4 separate regions of the Homo sapiens genome follow, and all the other regions are linked to region 1. The links come from fine-mapping of genetic effects on gene expression. A gene starts in region 1. Each other region holds a variant in brackets. All regions are shown on one strand. Distances are between the middles of the regions. Region 1 holds the start of LYST (lysosomal trafficking regulator). Region 2 holds the start of LINC02768 (long intergenic non-protein coding RNA 2768). Region 3 overlaps LINC02768 (long intergenic non-protein coding RNA 2768). Region 4 holds the start of LOC105373215 (a long non-coding RNA gene).

What was found. PIP is the estimated chance that this variant, and not a neighbour inherited with it, causes the effect.
Region 2: its variant is fine-mapped to the expression of LYST in whole blood (TOPMed, PIP above 0.99).
Region 3: its variant is fine-mapped to the expression of LYST in whole blood (TOPMed, PIP 0.98).
Region 4: its variant is fine-mapped to the expression of LYST in whole blood (INTERVAL, PIP above 0.99).

What each region holds. Positions count from the first base shown.
Region 1 is chr1:235,864,156-235,869,306 of GRCh38, reverse strand. It overlaps LYST (lysosomal trafficking regulator), which reads left to right and starts at 2,401. Exons shown (of 53, transcript NM_000081.4): 1 at 2,401-2,464. RefSeq lists silencers at 1,934-2,233, 2,284-2,703 and enhancers at 2,824-2,923, 3,294-3,343.
Region 2 is chr1:235,969,247-235,974,397 of GRCh38, reverse strand. It overlaps LINC02768 (long intergenic non-protein coding RNA 2768), which reads left to right and starts at 1,887. Exons shown (of 3, transcript NR_183724.1): 1 at 1,887-2,637. RefSeq lists an enhancer at 2,299-2,348. The variant C/G (reference allele first, on the strand shown) is at 2,601.
Region 3 is chr1:235,936,344-235,941,494 of GRCh38, reverse strand. The region is part of intron 2 of LINC02768 (long intergenic non-protein coding RNA 2768); the gene reads left to right. The region is part of intron 2 of LOC105373215 (a long non-coding RNA gene); the gene reads right to left. Among named protein-coding and RNA genes, the nearest start is that of LINC02768, 34 kb to the left of the region's middle. The variant C/T (reference allele first, on the strand shown) is at 2,569.
Region 4 is chr1:235,890,573-235,895,723 of GRCh38, reverse strand. It overlaps LOC105373215 (a long non-coding RNA gene), which reads right to left and starts at 3,439. Exons shown (of 5, transcript XR_002958490.2): 1 at 3,211-3,439; 2 at 2,494-2,783. RefSeq lists a silencer at 3,505-3,554. The variant T/C (reference allele first, on the strand shown) is at 2,476.

The DNA.
Region 1 (5,151 bases):
TAGAGACGGGGTTTCACCGTGTTAGCCAGGATGGTCTCCATCTCCTGACCTCGTGATCTGCCCGCCTCGGCCTCCCAAAGTGCTGGGATTACAGGCGTGAGCCACTGCGCCCGGCCAAGTAGAGCTTTCTTCTATATACCTATTACTTTACTTTTTTCTTCTTTTTCATGTTCTTCACTACACATTTTGTGTGTGTTCCTAGGAAATCTTTTAAACTAAGTTTTATTTGATATGTATATTTAGTATCGATGTTCTAAGATACTATTGAATAAAATACATACTGCAGTAGCTTAGTTAAAATACTGGAACCGAGGCCAGGAGCGGTGTCTCATGCCTGTAATCCCAGCACTTTGGGAGGTAGAGGTGGGTGGATCACCTGAGGTCAGGAGTTCGAGACCAGCCTGACCAACATGATGAAACTCTGTCTCTACTAAAAATACAAAATTAGCCGGGCATGGTAGCACATTCCTGTAATCCCAGCTACTTGGGAGGCTGAGGCAGGAGAATCACTTGAACCCGGGAGGCGGAGGTTGCAGTGAGCCGAGACTGTGCCACTGCACTCCAGTCAGGGAAAAAGAGTGAAGCTGCATCTTGAAAATAAAATAAAATAAAAAACACTGGTACCGAAAAAAATAATAGTCACAAATGGCATTACTTTGTGCCTTTTACAAACAAATAATACTTTGAGGGCCAATTGTATACCATTATCATCTAAAGTCTGTCTCATTTTCTTTGCTTTAATGAAATCATGATAATCTATTATTTTCTACTCAAGGTTAACAGAAACTGGCTTGTTACTTAATATTTCTTTGACTTCTTTTGTCCATTAAAAAAGGGGGGTGTTTTTAAGATTAGTGGGTGAAAGTTGATGTATAAATAAGAGTAGACACAGCTTTAGGTAAAATGACGAAACAGGTTAAGTTTGGCTTCCTCTTTTTGTTTCAGTTCAGGCCCATGCACCTAGCACAATACTTAGCGCATTGTAGGTGCTCATTATATACTGCTTAAATGAGTGATAAGTTCCCTGAGACATTTATTTCCTGCACTTGTTAGGGTTCAGTGAGCCGATATCCGGCCACTGCCCTCCAGCCTGGGCGACAGAGCGAGAATCTGTCTCAAAAAAAAAAAGATAAAAAATAAAAATAAAAGACTACCTGCCAGAGGAAGTGGGCAATCTTCGCCTAAAGATATGAACTGCTAATGGTTAAACATCAGACGTCAGAGAAGACATATTTTAAAGTGGGGAATTTTCCCCAAGAGCACCCTCTAAACCACATCAGTGGGCAACTTAACGCACTTTGCTTGTCATTGGGTTAGATGGGAGTTTGAGGAATTGGGAGTAACATTTGGTATATAGGCTTGGGACATAATATCCTGAATTATTTCTATTTCATAATTCCTGTGCAAAAAATTATGGGAGTTGTTGATTCTACAGCAATTCCTGTCAATTTGTAGATTATCTGCTTATTAATAGTTTGTATTGTTTGGCAGAACTTGAAAACTACCGAACGATTACAGTTCAGGCTTTTTCCCAGTACCTCTGGCGTTGCTGTCTCAGTGACTAGGAGGTGAGGAGGGTGGCCCTTGAAATGCCAAACTGCCTACCGCAGCAGTCTGCCAGCAGCGTGCTGGGCCCAGAGCCGGGGATGCAGCCAAAACATCCTGGATTTTACCTACAGCTCCCACCCTCTGGAGGGACTGGTCTATTAGGGCATATGACACTGACAGTGCGCACTGTATACAAACCGTGTTTGAACAGGAGTCGGTTGGAAAATACACCACTGCACTGAATTACTTCTGCAGTGGCTTTGCAAAGCTCTTTTTGTTTCTTGAAAGAAGCCGACGGTAACCATTACAATATGGCTTTTTCCAGGTCCCAGAGGAAGGCTAGGGGTGCCTTGTGGGTAACCCTTTCTCCCTCTCCTGACTCCTTCCCGTTATTTCTTCTATCTTCATCCTCTAGACCTACACAATGGGACAGGTTGACAGTCTGTGTTGAATGGAAGAGGCGGACGATGCGCTTGTGTTTGGTGCTTCTCAAACGGTGCTCGCACTCCCCAGGGTCTGACGCAGCCCACTACGCAGAGCCCTGGGAGGAGGTGCGGACCCAGGGTACGACCCCCGACCGCTGAGAAACCCAGACCGGGCCCCGGCTGCAGCCCCGCGGGTCGGCCCGCCCCCCTGCCTTCCCTATTGGCTCGGCAGTTCCACGCGTCACGCCTGCGACGCCGGCGCTGCCCTCCCAGAGGAGGCGGGGCTTACACGCGCGAGGCGGAGCCAAGGGCGCACGCGCAGACGAGCGGGTCTGGGTCCGGACGAGGGGAGGGAGGGGGTGGTGTTCTCGGTTTCCTGGGTTACCTGGGCGGGCGGGGGTGGGGAGTGCGCGGCGGCGGCGGCAGCGGCGTCGGCTCGGGGTTCTCCGGGAGAGGGGGAGTGCGCGGCGGCCGCAGCTGCCACAAACCAGGTAAAGGCGGCCGCCGGGCGCCGACGCTGCCGGCAGAAGGTTCCGGGTCCCGGCCCCTCTGCGTGGCCTGGAGGGGAGGCGGTTTGGGGCTGGTGGCTGTCAGCCTGGGTTGAGGGCCGGGACCGCCGGGCTGAGGGCGCGAGGGCGCGAGGGCACTCGGCCTGACGCGCCAGCTCGGGGCGTCCTCTCTGGCTTCTGGGCTCTGGGACTTCTCGCGGCGCCGGGCCGCCTTTGACAGCCGCCGGGCCGCGGGCGGGAGCTCGGCTGGGCCCCTCTGGGCCATTGCAGCGGCCACTGGGCACTAACTTTATTTCGCAGCGCGCGGGGGGCGAGGTCGAGCAGGCTGACGGCGGTGTGTTGCTACCTTTATTTTATTTTTTGATCCTGTGCCGCTGCACTACTCAGCCCAGCTGGGCCCAAGCTGTCAGGTTGACGATGGGAGTTGACGGTTTCCGCGCCACCACCCAGCCGGTCACTCCCCGCGCTGTTGCCCTGCGGCGCTCGCCCACCTGTCACCTACACCGTGCGCCTCGGTCCGCTCTTTCCTCCTGTCCGTGACACCCTTTGACTGGGCGAGAGCCTCTCTTTCCAGGGGATCCCCTGAGACATCTGCCGTCTGTCTCCGGTATCACTGGAGCCTGACTGAGATGCCCCTTCGCTTCTGATGAGTTAAATAAGCTGGGAAATTACCCGAGAAGACCCCGGTACCACAGTGTAAAGCCCAACGAAGGGGTTGTTTAATGGTCCAGGGGATACAGAGGCTTTAAGAAACGTTTCCTTAACGCTAATTCTTATCTGGTTAAACAAAACATAGCAAAACATCCCCGATCCGCTCGGCAGACCATACACACCCAGCGACGGCACTTGATAGTTAATGGGGTTTGTTTTAAGCAGATAGAAAATTTTAAGGGAGTCGAATCTTGTGTTGAATGCGTTCGTGTTGAATTTGGGCCAGTGTTTCCTTGAAGATCAAATGCAGGTTGCATTTTCCTATTGTTTGTTTAACAGATTGATAGGACAAACTGAATTAGACTTTTCTTCCTGATGATTCTTGGCTCTTCTGCGCTATTATTTTAAAATTCCACGCCTAGATTCATCTATGCTAATAAAGATGTTGACTTTAAGCTTTCAATTTATAGATGTAGTTGATTAATATGGGGTATCTGTTTTAAAGAGCTTTGTTAAGTGGCCAACAACTCTTTTTCTGATAGCTCTTTGCTGTCATCCATATTGTTACTACAAAGATTGGAGAATTTGAAGAAGAGAGGGCATAAGGAAAAATGAATTGCTGTAATTTGCATAAAAATACTTCACAAACTATATAATTATATATATGTATTTAGTAAATATTTATTGAGCACCTACTGCGTGTCAGATACTTTTCTAAGAAAACATAAATATCTGCTCCTTCATGGAGCTTATATTCTAGTGGGGACCTCAGATAATAAACAAATAAAATATGTGCTGTGTCAGATGGTGTTAAGTACTACAGAGAAAAAGCACGGAAGAGGGAGGGCAGGGAAGAGGGAGGGCAGGGAACCGGGAGAGGTTTGCAATTTTAACTAGAGGCAGCCAGGGAAAGCTTCCTAGAAAAGATATCATTTGAGCCAAGACCAGAAGTAAGTGAGGGGTAATCCATGTACCTCTCTGAGGGAAGGATGTGCTAGCAGAGAGGAAGGCAGAAGGGCTTGCAGAAGCCCTGTGTGCTGGGCTTGTTTGAGGACAGCAGAGAGGCTGATTTGGCTGTGGTGGAAAAAGCAAAGAGGAGTAGAAATAAAGTCAAAGAGGTGAGTGTGGTGGGAGATTAGACTGTATAAGGCCTTGTAGGCCCTTTTAAGGACTTGAGTTTCTACTCTCAGTGGAAAGGGGAGTCCACTCTTTGAGTAAAGAACCTTACCTTTTATTTTTAGTTTTGAGTCAGGATCTCACTTTGTCTCCCAGGCTGGAGTGCAGTGGCATGATCACAACCTACTGCAGCCTCGACTTCCCAGGCTCAGGTGATCCTCTCACCTCAGCCTCTGAAGTAATTGGGACTTCAGGCACACATCACCCACCATGCTTGGCTAATTTTTTGTAAAGATGGGGTTTCGCCATTGTTGCCCAGGCTGGTCTCAAACTCCTGGGCTCAAGCGATCCATCCACCTTGGCGTGTCAACATTCTGCGATTGTAGGCGTGAGCCACTGCGCTCGGCCCCAGGCTTGCCTTTTAAAAATGATCATTCTGGGCGCTGGATGGAGAATAGACTTTGTTGTAGGGGAAGGGTTGAGCAGGAGCAGAAGCTGGGATACCAATCCGGAACTGTTGCCCTAATCCAGGCCAGAGATAATGTAGCTTGGACCAGAGTGGAATTGGTGGAGGTGGTGAGAGGTCATTGATTTCAGGATAAATTGAGGGTAGAGATGTAAAAGACACCAAAATTTAGTTCCGAACAAGTAGAAAGATGGGGTACTTGTTTACTGAGATTAGGTTTACGAGAGGAGTAGGTTTGGTGGGGAGAAGGGTGGGAGTTGGTTAGAAGACAATAAAATTAGACATTCACGTTTTTAAAGAAAAAAATATTCAATGATACTTGTTTAAGAATGGTAAGTAAGGCTTTATTCAGAACCATCTCAATAGGTATAGAGACCTCTGCAGTGGGGCCCTGCAGTAGGGGAGGGAGACTGGGCTCAACTCCGAATACAGCATG
Region 2 (5,151 bases), 110 kb before region 1:
TGCATCAAAGGATACTATCAAGAGAGTAAAAAGACAACCCATGGAATGGGAGAAAATATTTGCAAACTCTATATGTGATAAGGAATTAATATTCAGAATATAACTACATTTCAACAACAAAAGCAAACAATTTAAAAATGAGTAAAGGATTTGAATAAACATTTATATGAAGAAGATATACAAATGGCCAATAAGCATATGAAAAGATGCTCAATATCATTAGTCATTAGGTAAATGCAAATAAAAACCACAATTTGACACCAGTTTACAGTATTAAGATGGCTTTTATCAAAACAAAACAAAACAAAACAAGTACTGGAGAGCATCTGGAAACGTTGTCCGTTGCTGATGGGAATGAAAACAGACAGCTTGGTGGTTCCTCAAAAAGTTGAATATAGAATTACTATATGATCCAGCAGTTCCACTCCTAGGACTATACCCAAAATAATAGAAAACAAGGGCTGGAACAGATGCTTCTGTGTTACTGTCCATTGCAATATCATTCACTGTAGCCAAAAGATGGAAACAACCCAAGTGTCCATCAACAGATGAATGGATAAACAAAATACGTTATGTACATAAAATGGAATATCACTGAGCCTAACAAATGAAATCCTGATACATGCTACAACACAGATGAACCGTCAGGACATTATGCTGTGGGAAATAAGCCAGACACAAACTATCAAGCAATATATGCGCTTCCATTTATATGAGGTATCTAGAATGTACCAATTCATGGAGACTGAAAGTAGATCAAAGGTTACCGGGGGCTGTGGGGAGGTGGAATGGAGAGTTATTGCTCGATGGCTACAGAATTCTTACCTGGGAAAATGAAAAGTATTGGAAATAGTGGTGATGGTTGCACAATATTGCGAATGTAATAAATGTCAGTGACTTGTACACTTAAGAATTATTAATGGCTGGGCACGGTGGCTCACGCCTGTAATCCCAGCACTTTGGGAGGCCAAGACGGGCGGATCACAAGGTCAGGAGATCAAGACCATCCTCGCCAACATGGTGAAACCCCGTCTCTACTAAAATGTAAAAAATTAGCCGGGTGCGGTGGTGCGCACCTGTAGTCCCAGCTACTCAGGAGGCTGAGGTAGAGGAATCGCTTGAACCCGGGAGGCGGAGGTTGCAGTGAGCTGAGATCGTGCCATTGCACTCCAGCCTGGCAACAGAGCAAGATTCTGTCTCAAAAAAAAAAATTATTAACATGGCAAATTTCATGATATATACATATTTTACAATTTTTAAAATTAATAATGTAATATACCCAAAACCATTGCAGGTACACTTTGGGTGAATTACATAGCATGTGAATTATATCTCAATAAAGCTGTTTTGGGTGGGCACAGTGGCTCACATCTGTAATCTCAGCACTTTAGGAGGCTGAGGCAGGAGGACAACTTGAGGCCAGTAATTTGAGACCAGCCTGGGCAATATAGTGAGACCCCCATCTCTACAAAATCTTTTAAAAATTAGCCGGGTGTAGTGGCAAGTGCCTGTAGTCCTAGCTACTCAGGAGGCTGAGGCAGGAGGATTGCTTGAGCCCGGGAGTTTGAGGTTACAGTGAGCTATGATCATGCCGCTGCACTCCAGCCTGGGCCACAGAGCAAGACCCTGTCAAATAAATAAATAAGCTGTTTTTTAAAAATCACTGTAATTAAAAACAAAAACTCCTGGATACCTAAGGTTGGCAAAATGCTGATCGTTGTTGTGGCTGGCCGAATTCTAAAGATTTCAAGATTCTAATTTTGTACTGCTCTGAAGGGACTTTGCAGATGGAATTTAGATGACTAAGTAGCTGACGTTAAAACAGGCAAATTATCCTGGGTTATCCAGGCAGGCCCTTAAAAACAGAGGAGGGAGGCAGAAGAGTCAGAGAGATAAGGCAGAAACAGAAAGCGGGAGAGGAGAGGGTGAAGGGGGAGAGGGACTATTTACACTTCCCTTTAGGTTACAGGCACAGAGAAACCTTTAGGCTGAACTTAAAATATGTGAGTAGCTTTAAGCTAAACTTGATTTAACAGGGAAAAACAGGACTTTGCAAAAATTCTTTTAGGGAGTGTACTATCGAGCACATTTGAAGACCACAGGTCTCGAAAGCGGGGAAGACGGGACCCAGAGTCCCCCGCAGCAGCGTCACGGCCCAGCTCTGGTTCTCAAGTTGGGCTGCTGTTTTTCCCCTTTTTCTCATCCGCCAGGATGCCAGGCGCTGCTGAAAGCTGCAGCCGAAAGGATTTAGAATTCCTTACAACGGAGAAAGGGTCTTTGCTCAGACAACATGGACTTAAGAGACGGAAGGGCCAAAAAGGCTTGAAAACAGGCTCGAAGAGCGGCTTCCTGGTAGCTAGAAGCTTAAGTGGGGACAGATGAGCTTAACTGGCAAGCCTGCGTGTGTGCTCTCCAGCCCCCGTGATTCAGTTTAAATCTGGGCGGGTCTCCTCAAAGACAGTTCCAGAAGGGGCCACGTGAGGGCAGTAAGAGCCTCTCAATGCCTGTTTTTGGGGGAAGAGAGAAGTGAGGGCGGAGCGCGGGGAGCGTCCCAGGCCTGGCTACCCGGATAACTTCCCCAAAAGAAGCTATGCTCGGGC[C/G]TTCCCATCGTCCCACTCAAGAGCTTTCTTCATATTGGTGAGTTGCCCAACTGCTAGCAAAAGAACTTCCCAATTATGGTCAAGCCTCTTCATCTAAATTCAGATTTCCACCAAATAGCCCAGCCCTTTTCCTCCCCAAGTCATCTCCTTACTCAAACATTTGCAGACATTCGTCACACGAGATCCCCAGCCGTGGGCTCAGCATCTTACACCGAGGTACGAAAACACAGAAGTATTCCTGAGTGTATTCTGTGTATGCAAAAGTGCATACGTCTCCTTATGGACCAGGTTCTGAGTGAATCTAAGTGGAAAACACGGAATAGCAGGCTAATTCCAGAAAATGCAGGGCTTTTGCAAATAAGTGGGCGTCTAGTCACTAAGCAGGTAGTAATAACAGGTGATGCTAAATGATTGCTTCGAACCACTTTGTTAAGGGGATCAGAGAAGGGAGAAGGCTCAGGAGAGAGAGTGCAGCAAGAAGCTTTTATTAGCTGGATGGAAATGGGAAAACTAACTCAGGATAACCTTATGTAGTAGAATTTATTGTGCCCATTGAGTAAGTCAGGAAACTGAGGGTTAAGGAGGTGAAGTAACTTGGCAAAGGTCACGCCGTCAGAGCAGAGTCCAGTTCCAGATTTGGTTTACTCTAAATACCCTTCCTCACCCCCCTTTTTAAGAAATACCTTAAATGAAAATTTATTTTTACTTTATCTTACATTATTATTTATTTGTATTCAGCACATTTTCATTTAGAAAGTTGGAAAATAAAGGCACAAGAAAAACAAATAACAGTAATTTCATTACTCAATAATGGCCTCATCACTACAATCTTGTCCAGAAATGTTGTAAACACACACACACAATACTTTTACATATATTTTTGTAAGATATATATATAACAAAAAATGTGATCCTGTGATACTTTTCCGTATTTTTGTTTTCCATTTAAATAAATGTGCATATGAACATTACTTTGATCAACTACATAATAGTATCATACTCTATTATATGGACAATAAACTCTCACCAGTTCATTTATTGATGAACTTTTAGGGTGTTTCTATGTGTTTTTTGATGTGATAAATAACAATAAACCAATAAACACCCACATACTAATATCAGTGTCCTTTTTTTTTTTTTTTTTTTTTTTTTGAGAGTCACGCTCTGTTGCCCAGGCTGGAGTGCAGTGGTGCAATCTCAGCTCACTGCAACCTCCGCCTCCCGGGTTCAACAATTCTCCTGCCTCAGCCTCCCGAGCAGCTGCGACCACAGGCATGTGCCACCATGCCCAGCTAATTTTTTATATTTGTAGTAGGGATGTGGTTTCACCATGTTATCCAGGATGGTCTCAATCTCCTGACCTCATGATTCACCCGCCTCGGCCTCCCAAAGTGCTGGGATTACAGGCATGAGCCACCACGCCCGACCCTCAGTGTCCTTATTAATATCTTTAGGATAAATTTCAACTCAGGATTATTTAAAAATTTAAGACTTTCAATAGATACTCCCCAACTGCCTTACAGAAAGTTTGTACCACTTTATACTTCCACCAGCGGGAGTGTTGGAGAGGGCCCGTTTACCTATGTTTTTGCCTTTGCATAGTTTATTTTTTCATTTTTGCCAATTACATAGGTGGTGTTTGTTTATTAAAATTTACATTATTGGCTGGTTGCAGTGACTCACGCCTGTAATCCCAGCACTTTGGGAGGCCAACATGGGAGGACTGCTTGAAGCTAGGAGTTTGAGGCCCATCCTGGGCAACATACTGAGGCTCAGTCTCTAAAAAGAAAAAAAATTACACTCTTTAAGTTGCGGTAAACTTTTGAAATGCACACTAGCCACTTAAAGTTCTTTTGTCAATTGTCCTTCTAGTCCTCAGTTCTTTTTTCTAATTGGGAGAATCTCACTGATTTATAAGTGTCCTTTACATTTTAAAGCTAATTAACCTTTTGTTGTCTATTTTGCAAATAATATTCCCCAAGGGTTTGTTGTTGTTGTTGTTGTTTGTTTGTTTGTTTGTTTTTTTGAGACAGGGTTTTGCTCTGTTGCCCAGGCTGGAGTGCAATGGCGTGATCTTGGCTCACTGCAATCTTGGCTCACTGCAACCTCTGTCTCCTGGGTTCAAGCTATTCTCCTGCCTCAGCCTCTCCAGCAGCTGGGATTACAGGCATGTGCCACCACACCTGGCTAAGTTTTGTATTTTTAGTAGAGATGGGGTTTCACCATGTTGGCCAGGCTGGTCTTGAACTCCTGACCTCATGATCTGCCAGCCTCAACCTCTCAAAAAGTGCTGGTTACAGGCGTGAGCCACTGCGCCCAGCTTTTTTGTTGGTTTTTTGTTCTGGGGGATTTGGGGACATACGGAAGGTTTTAATCTACATGTAGTCAATTCCTGCTCAGTACGAATTAGAACAAAAGTACCAGCCAAGAAGTCATGAGGCGGAAAATGTCCAGGCTGCACCCTGTGGCATATGGTATTTTCCAAAATGGCCTGAACACAATCTCCCACCCCACATATTCTTACAATGGTGTGTCGATGTGATATTGACAT
Region 3 (5,151 bases), 72 kb before region 1:
CCTTGCTCATTCATTCATCAAACAACTATCAAGCTCCTTCCTATGAACAATGAGTCCCATCAAGCCCTGGGAATACGTAGAATGAGAATCAGGTCCTGGGCTCACCACTTGCAGAGGAAGCAGATATTTAAACAAATGGAGCCAGGCACGGTGGCTCATGCCTGTAATCCCAGCACTTTGGGAGGCCGAGGTGGGCGGATCACCTGAGGTCAGGAGTTCGAGACCAGCCTGGCCAATATGGTGAGACCCCCCGCCGTCTCTATTAAAAATACAAAAAAGATCTGGGTATGGTGGCGGGCATCTATAATCCCAGCTACTCAGGAGGCTGAGGCAGGAGAATTGTTTGAACCCAGGAGGTGGTGGGTGCAGTGAGCTGAGATCACGCCACTGCACTCCAGCCTGGGCAACAGAGTGAGACTCCATCTCAAAAATAAATAAATAATAAAAAAACAAGTGAAGACAGAACAGGAACAGTGGAAGAGCCAACAGGCTCTCAGTGCCAGGAATCTGAGCATCAAGGAAGGGAGGCTTCCTGAAGGTAGCTGATATGTTTGATGATAGATGGTAGATGATATGTTTGAAGTGAGTCCCAAAGAAAAGGTAGGAACGCAAATAGGAAAAGACTTTCTGCAAAGAAGGAAATCTGTTTGCAAAGGTACAGCTCCAGAAATGCACAGTGGGTCATACACATTGTTTTTAGGAGGAACTGTGAGGTCATCAGTCTGGAGCCAAGGGTGCAAGGTGAGAGGGGAACATGAGTAGGCACAGCCAGGCATTGAAGGGCCTCGTCTACCCTACAAAGGTGTGTGGACTTATCCTACAGACATTGAGTTGCCTGAGTATTAAAGTAGCATGAAGACATGGTACCATTGGTTTTATAGCCAGAGAATTCTGGTAGCCATAAGTAGGGCAGGGAAGTGGGACCAAGGGCCAGAAGCGTGATGATGAAACCGGGTTGGGTGGTGGGGTGGTGAAAGCCTAAGCTACGTACCCAGCAGTGAGTGTCGACATGATACTGCAGTGCTGTGACTTGCAGGTCAGTTGGGAGGAGAATGAGGGTGGGGAAGCCAACGGGTTGATCTCTTCGCTCTGCCAGCACCAAGTTCTGGGTGCTCATCCACTCCCTGACCCACAGCTCTTTGCTGTCTAATGTACCCAGCACCTTGCAGCCACACTAACCTTCCCCAGGCAGTGTCATCTCATCCCTGTTCTCCCCAACCACCTTGTAGAGCATAATTGCATAAAGGTTAAATTCCCCCTTCATTTTTAAAAAATTAAATTATTTATACATTTTTAAAGCTATCTTTTGTTTTAGAGATAGAGGCTCACCCTGTCACCCAGTCTTGAGAGCAGTGGCACGATCACAGCTCACTGCAGCCTCAACCTCCTGGACTCAAGAGATCCTCCACTTCAGCCTCCCAAATAGCTGGGACCACAGGTGTCCACCACCATGCCCGGCTAATTTTTTAAATTTTTTGTAGAGATAGGGTCTTGCTATGTTGCCCAGGTTGGTCTCGAACTCCCAGACTCACATGATCCTCCAGCCTCAGCCCCTCAAAATGCTGGGATTACAGGGGTGAGCAACCACACCTGGCCAAAATCCTCTTTTAATGGCTACATTCCAAGTCCCCTATTCAGCCTTCACGCTCAGTATTTCCTAGTGTGAAATACCTCCACCCAAGACACCCTGTTATGTCCTCACAGAACCTGCCATTTCTGCACTGACACTCTGTCCTCACAGTGTCTCCAAGGGCTGCCCTCCTCTACCTGTGTGAATGAAATACATCCTCCAAGGCTCACCTCCCCTGTGAAACCTCCCCCACCAGGGTTCCTCATAGAAAGCTCTCCCTCTGCTGATTCCTATGGCATTTTTTCCTGACACTCTACCACTCTTGTTTTGCACTGTTACTTACATGTTTTGAACATGTGTCATGGCTCACAGAATAACGTAAGCTCTTTGTGGGAGAGAAGCCATGAGTATCTCTCAGAAGCCAGTATAAAGCTCCCTATATAGTAGGAGTCAGTAGATATTGATTGACTGTCAGTCTGTCTATCGAGAGGCTTATCAACAGTACCTGTCACTCTGCTGTCATCAGTGTGACTGGTGTGCAGTACTGAGAACGGGCCCTGGTCCGAAGCCTCTGCCATTTATCATAAACTCATGACCTCAGGCCAGTCACTTAACCTCTCTGGATCTTCATTTCCTTATCAGTAAGACGGCAAAGTTAGAGGAATCAATGGTGGTTAATTCCTTTCCACTTTTTTTTGATCATAGGACTTCCTTTCAAATGTGGACCTGCTTGTGTGCAGTACATGACGGAAAAGCTGCTAGGAACCCAGCCTTCTCCTCCCCCCTCCTTCTCCTCCTCCTCCTCCTCCTTCCCTTCAATCCACTGTAGACTTAGAAAAAAACCTGAAAACTCCCACACTGGGTGGTTCCTTCTAAGACTCAACACCTGCATGGTTACAGGATAACAAAGATGACCAGTCTCATGGCTCTAGGTCTGGGCACTGCTATGTCTACATAGGACTATGGCAGGATCTAGGCTAAGGGCTTGGTCAAACCCA[C/T]GCTCACTAATTATAGAGAAGTAGTTACTGCAAAATTTCCCGAGGAAACCAAAGCTAGGGTTTGGTTTCCACTTAGATTGAGCAACTTCCTTCCAGGGCACTCAACCTTCTCAGCAAAACATTCTCTTTTAATACAGGCAGTCCAATAATGCACAAGGGTTGTGATTGTGCATTTGACATAAACATATAAATGCACCTTCAGGAGGAAGCTGGGCCCCTGGTTATTCACTCTGGTGGTGGTGTTTACGTGAGGCACTGTCCACTTTAATCATCTTAAAAATTTAGAACAGGTTGAGGTCACGACTCACGGCCAGTATGGCAGCAAGGGACAGCTAAGCGTATACTGTGAGATTTGAAGTAAATAGGTGGCTCTCACCTGTAATCCAGCACTTTGGAAAGTCCAAGCGGGAGGACTTCTTGAGGCCACGAGTTTGAGAGCAGCCTGGGCAACACAGGGAGATCTTGTCTCTACCAAAAATATTTAAAAACTAGCCAGACATACTGGGGTGCTTCTGTAGTCCCAGCTACTCAAGTAACTGAGGTGGGAGGATGGCTTGAGCCCAGGAGGTTGAAGGTGCAGTGAACTGTGATTACGCCACGGCACTCCAGCCTGGGTGACAGAATGAGACCCTGTCTCTAAGAAAAATTAAAAATAAAGGCTGGGCGCGGTGGATCATGCCTGTAATCCCAGCACTTTGGGAGGCCGAGGTGGGTGGATCACAAGGTCAGGAGATTGACACCATCCTGGCTAACACGGTGAAACCCCGTCTCTACTAAAAACACAAAAAATTAGCTGGGCATGGTGGCGGGCGCCTGCAGGCCCAGCTACTCGGGAGGCTGAGGCAGGAGAATGGCGTGAACCTGGGAGGCAGAGCTTGCAGTGAGCCGAGGTCGCGCCACTGCACTCTACCCTGGTCAAAAGAGTGAGACTCCATCTCAAAATAAAATAAATAAAATAAAATAAAATAAAATAGAAATTAATAGTATTACCTCAAGTGACAGAGGATGTTTCACATTTCACTTGTAGCCACCTAAAAATAATTTAAAATCACACTAAAGGGATCTAAGACTTTCATTGCCTGAATCCTCCTTTTCAAAATTGTGTCTCCTCTAAAGGATATCTTAGGCTCCTCTCCTTCCTCCAGCCAACGTCAACCTGCGCCCAGCAGGCTGGGCAGGAAGCTCAGTGTCTTCATCCCAGCCAATCTCTGAAGAGAAACTGGAAACGTTTCCGGTTAACTAAGCCAGTTGCTCCAAAAAGGCCCCCATTCCTGGGTCACTTTCTTCTGACCTGTTCCTAAGTGAAGTTGGCACTGGTTTGGGGTAGATGGGCTGCAAGAACTGTTTTCAGATTTCCCAGACCTCGCTCTCTCCTTTTTGTAAACACCTTGACCTAAATTTCCCATCCACTGCTTGCTGGTCAGCACTGCATTTACAATTTCCAACTTCAGCTGTTCCTAAAGGAACAACTGGGGTCCAAGATAGCGCATCGGACCTATCTGCCTTAAACAGTAGGGTTCCTGTTCTCTCCTCTGGGGTGGTTGTCACAGGAACTCATGGCAACCAGATCTTCCCCAACAGAGCAGCTTCTCAGAGTGGTGGGTGGTTATCGGGGCCAGGCAGAGGCTATGCTGTTGTATATAGTGATGCCTCTGGGGGATTCACAACGAAAGAACCATGAGTGGGTGTGTGGGTGTGTGTAGAGACAGAGGGAGATGAGACAGAGAGAGTGCCAAGAGACTTTTGTCACGGTAGCCAGGAATGGGCTATTTTGGGTTATTTTGAGTTGGAATCTCACTCTGTCACCCAGGCTGGAGTGCAGTGGTGCCATCACAGCTTACTGTAGCCTCGAATTCCTGGGCTCAAGCAATCCTCCCACCCCAGCCTCCCAACTGGCTAGGACTACAGGCTCACAGCACAGGCACGGTGGCTGTGCCACGGTGGAGTTCAAGACCAGCCTGAGCAACATAGTGAAAACTCATCTCTACAAAAAATACAAAAATTAGGTGTGGTGGCATGCACCTGTAGTCCCAGCTATTTGGGAAGCTGAGGCAGGAGGATAGCTTGAGCCCAGGAGGTGGAGGTTGCAGTGATCCAAGATGGCACCACTGGACTCCAGCCTAAGTGAGAGAGCCAGACCCTCTCTCAAAAAAAAAAAAAAAAAAAAAATCCCAGCTCTTCCACTTACTGGCTATAAGACCTTGCTGATTTAAGATATTCAGCTTCTTGGAGCCAAAGTTTCCCCATCTGTAAAATGGGGATGACAATAATAATACCTACCCGATAGGGTGGCTTTGATGATTACACAATGTAATACGTATAAACTGCCTGGCACATTGCAAAGCACTGTGTGTGTTAGCCGTTGCTTTTATTACGCTACACCTGTCTCCATGGTTTTACCCCTGACTTTAACATGAACATTTTTTAAAAACTTATTTTGAAAGAATTTTAACCTTACAGAAAAGTTGCAAGAATAATACAATGAACTCCATATACTCTTTGGATTCACTGATTGTTAATATTTTGCCACGTTTGCTTTATCTCCCTCTCTTTTTTCTTTCTCTTACTCTCTATATACCATCA
Region 4 (5,151 bases), 26 kb before region 1:
GCCTGTTGCTGTTTTTTAAAAATCTGTTGTGTCTAATGTTTCTAAATCAAAAGAAGTTCACATTTTTAAATTAATAAATAATAATTGTACATAGTCATGAGGTATATAGTGATGTTTTGATATTTATAATATATAATGATCAGATCACAGTATCAGCATATCCATCATCTCAAACACAAAAATGTTAACTTTTTATTGAAGTATAACATACATACATAGAAAATAGCACACATCTTATGTTCACAATCTGATGAATGATTACAAACTGAACACAATCATGAACAACACATTGATCAAGAAATAGAACATGACCAGACTCTTAGAAGCTCTCTTCATAAAATCAGACCGAACCTACTTTGCTATGTCTGGCTTCTTTCACTCCAGATTATGTTTATGTACATTGAGTGCACATGGACACAAAGAAGGGAGCAACAAACACGGGGCCTACTTGAGGGTGGAAGATGGGAGAGGTGTGAAGATAAAAAAACTACCTATTTAGTACGATGTTTATTACCTGAGTGACGAAATAATCTGTATACCAAACCTCCGTGGCTCGTAATTTACCTATATAGCAAATCTGCACCTGAGCCCCTGAACCTAGAATAAAAGTTAAAATATAGGCCGGCATGGTGGCTCATACTGTAGTCCCAGCACTTTGGGAGGCTGAGGTGGGTGGATCACCTGAGGTCAGGAGTTCAAGACCAGCCTGACCAACATGGTGAAACCCTGTCTCCACTAAAAATACAAAAATTAGCCGGGTGTGGTGGTGCATGCCTGTAGACCCAGCTACTCTGAAGGCTGAGGCAGGAGAATCGCTTGAACCCGGGAGGCAGAGGTTGCAGTGAGCCAAGATGGTGCCATTGCACTCCAGCTTGGGCAATAAGAGCGAAACTCTGCCTCAAAAAAAAAAAAAGTTAAAAAATATACGTGTGTGTGTGTGTGTGTGTGTGTGTGTGTGTGTGTGTGTGGTGTGTATATCTACATGTATATGTATATATAAATATAATTTTTAAAAAACGATTATGTTGGCTGGGCACAGTGGCTCATGCCTGTAATCCCAGCAGTTTGGGAGGCCGAGGCGGGCGGATCACCTGAGGTCAGGAGTTCGAGACCAGACTGACTGACATGGAGAAACCCTGTCTCTACTAAAAATACAAAATTAGCCGGGCGTGGTGGCACATGCCTGTAATCCCAGCTACTCGGGAGGCTGAGGCAGGAGAATCGCTTGAACCAGGGAGGCAGAGGTTGCATGGAGCTGAGATCACACCATTGCACTCCAGCCTGGGCAACAAGAGCAAAGCTCCGTCTCAAAAAAAAAAAAAAAAAAAAAAAAATATATATATATATATATATATATATATACACGTTTATGTGATTGATTCTTCCATGTAGCTGCATTTAATTGGATTAAGTTAATCAATTGATTAAAATCTTAGAATGGTCACACCTTGTCTTTTATAAATACAACACTGCAGAATCTGTGATAATCATAAGCATTTTGTCACCTGATGAAGCATTTTTCATCTAAACTAGCTCTAGGCATTATTATTATCCTCATTTAATAGAAAAGGGGCCTGGGATTGAAAGGGTAATTTGCCTTGCACAAAGCTAGTAGGTGGCCAAGCCAGGACTGCCTCTTATCTAAATCCATGCCCTTTCTGCCCCACCCCATTGAATTAAGAGCAAAGGTAGCAGTGGCTTAAATGAAAGGAATGTTTCGCTCACCATTAGGCCATTTAGACATTGAGACAAAGTTACCAGGGAAAGTTGTCTAAACTTCTTTCCTGAAAATCATTGCGAAAAATTGGGAAGGCAAATATCCCATAAATATTCATCCAGCTTCAATATTAATTATCTCCAGAGAGAATTTCTTCTGCTAATGCTATGATATCAACATTTCTCATTTAATACTATTAATCATAATGCCTTCATGATTACATTGCCTATGTAGTATATGCTTACATATCATGTGGATTTTACATTTGCATATGCCCACTTTCCTCTCCAGCTTAATGAATATCAATGATTGCAGCCTCTTAGCAATAAAGGAGTGTCACTTCTCATTCACAGATGAGGAAATTGAGGCCCACTATCAAATAGATGGTTACGGCGGAACTGGAGCAAAATTCAGGTCTTCAGCCTCCCAGTCCGTGACTCTTTGGAGCGCACATAACTACGTAAAATGAGAAACTTTGTTTCTACTTGGAAACATAAACAATGATAATCCTAATTGTTATTAAAACTGTGAAATGTTTTTTTTTTTCCCAAGACAGTAGGGCTGCATGACTTAGTTTTATGTTATAAAATCATGATATTGTACCCTAAGATAATGATCCTTCTTTGAGACATGATTCAGGTGTCTCTGCAGGAACTAATTTCACAATCCAGTATACTTCATAGGAATTTCGGAAGAAATTAGGTAAATTAGCTGAGAAAACAAGAACTTATCACCTCCAATATTGACTTAAGCGCTAA[T/C]AACACAAGTAACCTTACCTTATAGAGCTGTGGGACTTCAAAAGCAGAAGTGAGGTCACAGAAGAGCTTGGTCTAAACTTGTCCCCTCCTTCCCCATTCCTACTTCTGCTTCTGTGGATATTCCTCTTTTTTGGTAATTTTAGAGAAAAAAAAACAAAAAACAAAAAACAAACATGAAGACTCACATCCAGAGCCTTCCTACCTCCGAATGTAGCATTCACTGCGCTGAGAGCTTTTCCCCAGGAAGTTGGGCTTTGCTCTCACCTGGTCACCTTTCAGGAATCCCAAAAATACAGGGTCTGTTTTCCCTGCAAAAGAACAGTATGTGCAGGTCAAAGGACAACAGATAGGCCTATTTATTTTCCCAGAGACCTTGGCCAGGCCCTAGTGTCTTCTCTTCCCTTGTCCTCAGGTTGTGGGTCAGCCTCAGGTCATGGGTCAGGTCGGGCTTGCACAGCCCTGATCAGGTCCCAGGGCTTCCCTCCCCACCCTCCCTGGTGGGTTTTCTAGGCTTCTTCTTTGAGAGCCTCTATGAACCTCTGTCCTCCCAGTTACCTTTATAAATAGACAATGGGGAAAAACAAATATTTCAATAAATAGTTGAATAAGGTCTCAGAGCTGTTGCCCTTCTAATGACTGTTAGATACTAGAAAATACCTCAAATTTCAGAGCTCTGGGCCATCCCCTGTCCTAGAGCTGGGCCCCCTAGGGTAGCGTTGTGGTCTGGGTACACACCTTGAATGCTGAGTAAATACAGAACTTTCTGGGCTTCTGGTGAGAACTCTTAGAACACGCTATATGGCACGAATATTTTCTCTCCTAGAGAAGACGGCCGAGCCCTGGGACTCTTGTCTGCTGACCCAGACTGTAACAGAGCCTGACAACTCACAGAGGTCTTTTTTTGTCCTCAAGCTCAGAGAACTTCAGGGCCAGCTGCCTTCGTTTGGGTGAGAGGGTGGTGCACAGCTTAGGGAAGGCTGAGCAACAGGAGCTGCAGGGAGGGTGTGGCCTCCTTTGTGGGGTCAACAGTGGGCCTAAGTCTGGGCTGGGTAGTTGGTGAGAGTGAAACTGGGTTGATTGGGAGAGGGACTTATGGCAGTGCCCCTGTCTGAAAGAGGAGCAGGGTCTCTCGGAAGACCCATAATCCTGATCCCTCACTGAAACCCAAACGCCTTGAGAAATCCTCTGCATTGCTCATGACTGACATTTAGTATAGTAATAGTTGTGTTAGGCCCTTTGAATGATAAACACCACATTCTGGATAAGGATGATCTCTAGGAAGAGGCCATGGGAGAAACATATCAATGAAGTCTCATATCCATAATGTTGTCATTTTAAATGCAAGTCTTATTTTGGGATAATTTATGGAAAAATTGCAAATGTAGTCCAAAGAGTTCCCATATACCCCTTCGTCCCATTCCCCCCAGTGTTGACATCTTACATAACCATGGTACAGAAATGAACATAACTCAGAAATTAACACTGGTACAACTAAACGTTAGATTTTATTCAGATTTCACCAGTTTTTTCACAAACGCCCTTTTTCCATTTCAGGATCCAATCCAGGACTCGACATTACACTTAGCACACCTATATTGTTTTATATGTTTGAAAAGTTTGAAAAAATGTTGGCAAGGCCGGGCGCGGTGGCTCACGCCTGTAATCCCAGCACTTTGGGAGGCCGAGGCGGGTGGATCATGAGGTCAGGAGATCGAGACCATCCTGGCTAACAAGGTGAAACCCCGTCTCTACTAAAAATACAAAAAATTAGCCGGGCGCGGTGGCGGGCGCCTGTAGTCCCAGCTACTCGGGAGGCTGAGGCAGGAGAATGGCGTGAACCCGGGAGGCGGAGCTTGCAGTGAGCCGAGATTGCGCCACTGCAGTCCGCAGTCCGGCCTGGGCGACAGAGCGAGACTCCGTCTCAAAAAAAAAAAAAAAAAAGAAAAAAAAAGAAAAAGAAAAAATGTTGGCAAACTTTCTGGCAAGAACAGAAACTTCATTATATTGCTTTCTGGCCATTATTGGAGGGAACATAGTGCTTATGAGGGAGGCTCTGGAGATAAGACAAGCAATCCAGCTTCAAATTCTGGCTCAAGCACTCTCTAGCTGTGTGCTTAATCTCTCTGAGCCTAAATTTCCTCAACTCAAAAATAGGGATGATAACAGTATGTACCACTTAGGCTTACTCTGAGATTTACATGGATTAAGTCACACAAGGCAACTAGAAATTGTGATCAAGAAATGTTAGCTATTATTATTAATTGCATATGTAATTCACAACACAATTTTTCTAAAAATAGCTCCTTTGAGAGTCTCTGGAGTCCATCTTAATAAGAAATCACAACCTTCATTGTAAATCTGTTCCCCATTACAAAATTTGCTACATTGTATTGTAACTATGTGCTTCTGTATCTGTCTTTAACAGTATTGTAACTATTTGTTTCTGTATTTGTTTTTAACAATATTGTAAGTATTTGTTTCTATATCTGTCTTTAACAATGAACTGCACTTTGCACAGCAAGGCACATACAAGAGGAAAGTGTGTTTAGTATGAAGGAAGAAAGAAAACATGGAAAGTGGTTCGGTATCTCCTCCAGATGCTCTAATGGGGGACTCAGGGCCAGAGTGGGGCACAGCATTTGTTCAGATCAAGGGAGCTGCATTTTTCAGGGCAAA